Regions from separate parts of the Homo sapiens genome. Here region 1 is linked to region 2. The links come from fine-mapping of genetic effects on gene expression. A gene starts in region 2. The other region holds a variant in brackets. All regions are shown on one strand. Distances are from middle to middle.

The links.
Region 1: its variant is fine-mapped to the expression of PCED1B in whole blood (GTEx, PIP above 0.99).

The regions. Positions count from the first base shown.
Region 1 is chr12:47,220,786-47,223,696 of GRCh38, reverse strand. All of the region lies in intron 3 of PCED1B (PC-esterase domain containing 1B), which reads right to left. Among named protein-coding and RNA genes, the nearest start is that of PCED1B-AS1, 5.8 kb to the right of the region's middle. RefSeq lists enhancers at 66-796, 797-1,527, 1,528-2,259, 2,555-2,911. The variant C/T (reference allele first, on the strand shown) is at 1,448.
Region 2 is chr12:47,077,808-47,080,718 of GRCh38, reverse strand. PCED1B (PC-esterase domain containing 1B) reads right to left here and starts at 1,098. Exons shown (of 4, transcript NM_138371.3): 1 at 994-1,098. AMIGO2 (adhesion molecule with Ig like domain 2) reads left to right here and starts at 760. Exons shown (of 3, transcript NM_001370299.1): 1 at 760-1,257; 2 at 1,471-1,577; 3 at 1,654-2,911. The coding sequence starts at 1,717.

The DNA of each region.
Region 1 (2,911 bases), 140 kb before region 2:
CCTCCTGCAAAGGCAGAGAGGTACCTCCTTAGGCGTAAAGCTTCCTCAGCAGCTCAGGGACTTCGCTCCCGGATATCCCCCAGTGAGGGGATAATTTGCATTCTGCATTTTCTTTACCCTCCTTGGCCTGGATCCTTCTTTTTAGCATTAAACACATTCTAGTTTCTTGCTTTGAAAAAGAAAGGAAACATCTTTGACTCCACCTCCAGGACAGTCCTATCTTTTGCCTCCACTCCAAGGCCACATTTAAAAAAAAAAACTTGCTTGCACTGACTGGGTCTGGGTCTGGGCCCCACCTCCCACTCACTCCTCCGTTTACTTTAATTTGGCTCTGACTGGATCAAAGCCAAGGAATGTTTGTTAGTAAATCACCGATGATTTCCCTGTTGCTCCTTTCAGTGGCCACTTTTTGGTTCTTACAGTATGAGGGGTAGGGGCACTACTGACTGCTCCCTCTGAGAAACCCAGCCCTCAAGTCCACGTATTTGTGACACCCTTGTATCCTGTCTTTCCCTAGTATCTTTTGAGGGTTTCTCTTTCTCTGGCAGTTCCCCAAATGTTGGTCTTTCTCTCTCTCTCTCTCTTTTTCTTATTTCTCCCTCCCTTCCAGGTCTTTCTCAAGGCCCACTGAAGGGCTCTTTTCTTCTCTTCTTCAACATTCTTATCCTCGTGTGTCCACCCATTTTCAGAGTGTCAGGAAATGAGGTAACCCTATGTCCCTATTTGCCCCAAACAGTTCTGGTTTCTGCCTGTTTCCCCAGAATGATTAGTAGCACCCCAAACCCTTAAGAGTCCTGGTTTGGATGGTTACAACGGACCATCCCCTTATCAATTCCCATTTGTATGCAGATGACTGAGAATTGGGGCAATAAAGCACACTGGCTGAGAGGGAGGGGCTCTGGGGTTGGCCCCCTGGGTTTGATCCTGCTCCACTGCTTACTAGCCCTTGAGTCCCTGGGCCTATTAAGCAACCCCTCTGCCCTGAAGAAACCTCATCAATAAAATGGGAACAATATTACTGCAGTTTTCCTAACAAGTGAGGGTTAAATGAACACATGTAAAGTTATTAGCATGACACCGCCACATTTCTAAGTGCTCAGTGAATGTAGCTATTATCTTTGTCTCTAGCCCAGACCTGTCTCCTGAGTTTCAGACATATTCAGGTAGAGAGAATAAAGTTATCTGGGGTTGGAGGGGTAGGAGGTAGGAAAAGCAGTCTATGCAGGCCCCTATCACTTCCCAATTCTCTCTCTTTTTTTTTTTTTTTTTTTTTTGAGATGGAGTTTTGCTCTTGTTGCCCAGGCTGGAGTGCAATGGCGTGATCTCAGCTCACCGCAACATCTGCCTCCCAGGTTCAAGCGATTCTCCTGCCTCAGCCTCCCAAGTAGCTGGAATTACAGGCACGTGCTACCACGCCCGGCTAATTTTTTTGTATTTTTAGTAGAGA[C/T]GGGGATTCTCCATGTTGGTCAGGCTGGTCTCGAACTCCTGACCTCAGGTGATCCACCCTCCTCGGCCTCCCAAAGTGCTGGGATTACAGGCGTGAGCCACCACGCCCGGGCGTTTTTTTTTTTTTTTTTTTTAATTTTTTTTTTAAGAGATAGAGTCTCACTCTGTCACCCAGGCTGGAGTGCCATGGTGCGATCATGGCTCACTGCAGCCTTTATCTCCCAGGTTTAAGAGATCCTTCTGCCTCAGCCTGCCAAGTAGTTGGGACCACAAGTGTGCATCCCATGCCCAGCTAATTTTTTAAAATTTTTTGTGGAGACAGGCTCTTGCTTTGTGGCCCAGTCTGGTCTTGAACTCCTGGTTTCAAGTAAACCTCCTGCCTTGGCCTCCCAAAGTGCTGGGATTACAGCCATAAGCCACCATGCCCAGCCACTTCCCACTTCTCTAGACACTCATTTATCTTCCCATCAAACTGTGGCTGAATTTCTCAAATAATTGTCTTGTGACCTTTGAACAGTCTCCCTAAATGTAAATATTGCATTGACCAACAATGGGAATGATGGCAGCACATTCTCACCAGGCAATTTCAGAGAGCTGCTGTATAATTTTTCTTGAAGCACTGGCTGGGAATACATAATTGGGTGGAAATATACTTTGCTTCTGAAATGTGTGGATAAAGTCATTTTTATTTTTGATGACTGGTTTTGTTTTAATTGTGAAGAAATCCTTAGGTTGATCTGTATCCTGGCAATCATTTAAAAATTTTCATGTTGGCGGGGCGTGGTGGCTCACCACCTGTAATCCCAGCACTCTGGGAAGCTTAGGCAGGAGGATCACTTGGCCCAGGAATTCAAGACCAACCTGGACAACATGGTGATATCCCTTTCTTAAAAAAAAAAAAAAAAAAAAAAAGAATTTTGATGTCTAACAAATATTGGAAACAATATATATATTTTGAAGATATAGCTTAGGGAGGAGGGGAATGTTGCAATATATATTTTGGGAAGCTGAGCACAGTGATCAATGTCACATTTGTTTTCAGTTTTATGGTTAAATATTTTACTTTCCCCCAATTTTTCTTAGTCCTTAAAAAGTGTGTCTTTGATTAAAACATTATTTTTTAATTGGTATAGTTTTAATTTTATATGTTTTCTTACATAAAACTTCATCATCTAGGTTTTAAAGTTTCAAATTCATTTAATATGTTAGAATAATTCCAACATTTTGCATTCTGTAAACTTTTTATGTCTTGGGATATGATCCTTTCTTCTTGGGATCTTCTGAAAGCCCGCAGGGAACCATAGGGTTTGTATAAGCCCAGAGGGCCTTTTCTCATGTCTTTATGTTTGTCTCTGTGACTCACCTTTGAATGTTCCCCAACCCTTTCCTGTTACTGAAATTCTGCTCCTTCATTAAGACTCACGTTAAAAGACAATTTTGTCAGAGAGCCTTCCCTACTCTCCTA
Region 2 (2,911 bases):
TCTTATCTTTGCATTCCAGCCGGAAGGTCGGCTCCAAGCCTTCTTTCCTGCCCTCCTCCTTCTTGAATTGGACACCATCCCTGTTGCCGCCTCCTGAGTCAGGAAAGGGATAGAACTTTCCCAGGGAGGTGAGGGGTGTCCCCGTGGCGATTTCCCGGTTACTTCCTCCCAGCAGATATCCCTGTGGAGAGGAAACGTTCCCGACTTCCCTCCCCGCGACCTCCTCCCTAGAAACGAGCGGAGACGTCAGGCTGCTTCTGGGTTTATTTTGTAAACCCAGACAGTCAACTGCACTTGGCGCAGGCAAAGCCTCCTTGGCCCTTGCCCCAAAGCAAAGCTCTAAGAGGTCCGGGGATTCCTTGGCCTGGGTGGGGAGAGAGACGTGACCTGTGCGGCCGCCGCGAAGTGGGTCTCCAAGGGTGAGACCCCTCCCTCGGTGGCTGGGCGTGTCCCCTTTAGCCTTCCTGGACCCCATTACCGCCCGGCTTGGAGCTGGACGAAGGGACGTAATTGGTAGGCGAGTGGGTTGGGCATCTTGACTCAAGGACCAGAGTCTGGGCCTCTGGTGTGGACCCCTGCCCCCTCCCCGCTCTGCGCGGCCGTTCTAGAGGTCCGGGTGGGAGCTGGAGGAGGAAAGCGGGAGGAGGCGGCGAGGCCGCGGGGCGGTATGAGGGGGCGCCGGCCGCCTCTCGGATTGGCTGCGCCGCCGCCCCCTCCGCATCGCGCGCCCCCCACCACGCGCCCAGCCTGCTCCCTCCCGCAGGCTCCGAGCTGCTGCCCGCAGGAGGCAGGACGCGCAGGGGTGGGACCGGCGCCCCAGCCCGTCTCCCGGCCCCGGGCGCGCGGGAACCCCGGGTCCTGCAGCCTCCCGAGTGCGGAGAGGCGGGGCCGCCCGCTGCCGCCCGGCTGCCTGCGCCCCCTCCCGCGGCCCCGGCTCTGGGAGCGGGGCGCCCCGCGCGCGGGCACACGGCGGCCAGAGCGCCGAGGCGGTACCTTCAGCCTGCAATGAGAGGAACCCGGGAGAGCCCCCGGGAGCCAGCGAAGAGCTTGGCTGCTGCGTCCAGGGCTGCTGCTGCCGCCGCGGCTGCTTGAAACTCCTCAAAGTTGAGAGCCGGCTAGAGGGTGCCGCCCGCCGGGAGCCGGAGGGAAAGGAAGTCGGAAGGTGCAAGAGTGACAGACACGGACAGACGGACGCGCAGACCTTCGGAAGGCACTGCGTAGGCAGCCTCCCCGGAGCCCACGAGGCTCCCCAGCACCGTGAGTTTTTTCCTGGATGGGTGGTTGCTAAGTATTTCCGTTTAATTGTTTGTAGCGTACGTTTGCGTATAGTTGTGTCTGTTGGAGGGAGTTTAAAACAACAACAACAACAACAACAACGCAGGATGCACCTTAGGAAAAAATTGAGTTTCTGATGGTGGGTGAGACGGTGGGTTGTATGGAGAGAATGTGACTGTACATTTTTATAAGCAGGACTAACCCAGGAAAGAGGAAAAAATACATTTAACAGTGAAGAGGCAACACAGAGCTCCCTATTGTGAAATAAAACCCATTTCAAAAGTTATTGGAAAGAAAGTAAGGTATGGCTCTTATGGGTTAACTAGTGGTAGTCAGTTTCTGCTTTTTACTCCCTCTGAATTATTAATTGTTTGCCAGGTTCACTGGTGGGAGGCTGAGCCGGTGGAAAAGACACCGGGAAGAGACTCAGAGGCGACCATAATGTCGTTACGTGTACACACTCTGCCCACCCTGCTTGGAGCCGTCGTCAGACCGGGCTGCAGGGAGCTGCTGTGTTTGCTGATGATCACAGTGACTGTGGGCCCTGGTGCCTCTGGGGTGTGCCCCACCGCTTGCATCTGTGCCACTGACATCGTCAGCTGCACCAACAAAAACCTGTCCAAGGTGCCTGGGAACCTTTTCAGACTGATTAAGAGACTGGACCTGAGTTATAACAGAATTGGGCTTCTGGATTCTGAGTGGATTCCAGTATCGTTTGCAAAGCTGAACACCCTAATTCTTCGTCATAACAACATCACCAGCATTTCCACGGGCAGTTTTTCCACAACTCCAAATTTGAAGTGTCTTGACTTATCGTCCAATAAGCTGAAGACGGTGAAAAATGCTGTATTCCAAGAGTTGAAGGTTCTGGAAGTGCTTCTGCTTTACAACAATCACATATCCTATCTCGATCCTTCAGCGTTTGGAGGGCTCTCCCAGTTGCAGAAACTCTACTTAAGTGGAAATTTTCTCACACAGTTTCCGATGGATTTGTATGTTGGAAGGTTCAAGCTGGCAGAACTGATGTTTTTAGATGTTTCTTATAACCGAATTCCTTCCATGCCAATGCACCACATAAATTTAGTGCCAGGAAAACAGCTGAGAGGCATCTACCTTCATGGAAACCCATTTGTCTGTGACTGTTCCCTGTACTCCTTGCTGGTCTTTTGGTATCGTAGGCACTTTAGCTCAGTGATGGATTTTAAGAACGATTACACCTGTCGCCTGTGGTCTGACTCCAGGCACTCGCGTCAGGTACTTCTGCTCCAGGATAGCTTTATGAATTGCTCTGACAGCATCATCAATGGTTCCTTTCGTGCGCTTGGCTTTATTCATGAGGCTCAGGTCGGGGAAAGACTGATGGTCCACTGTGACAGCAAGACAGGTAATGCAAATACGGATTTCATCTGGGTGGGTCCAGATAACAGACTGCTAGAGCCGGATAAAGAGATGGAAAACTTTTACGTGTTTCACAATGGAAGTCTGGTTATAGAAAGCCCTCGTTTTGAGGATGCTGGAGTGTATTCTTGTATCGCAATGAATAAGCAACGCCTGTTAAATGAAACTGTGGACGTCACAATAAATGTGAGCAATTTCACTGTAAGCAGATCCCATGCTCATGAGGCATTTAACACAG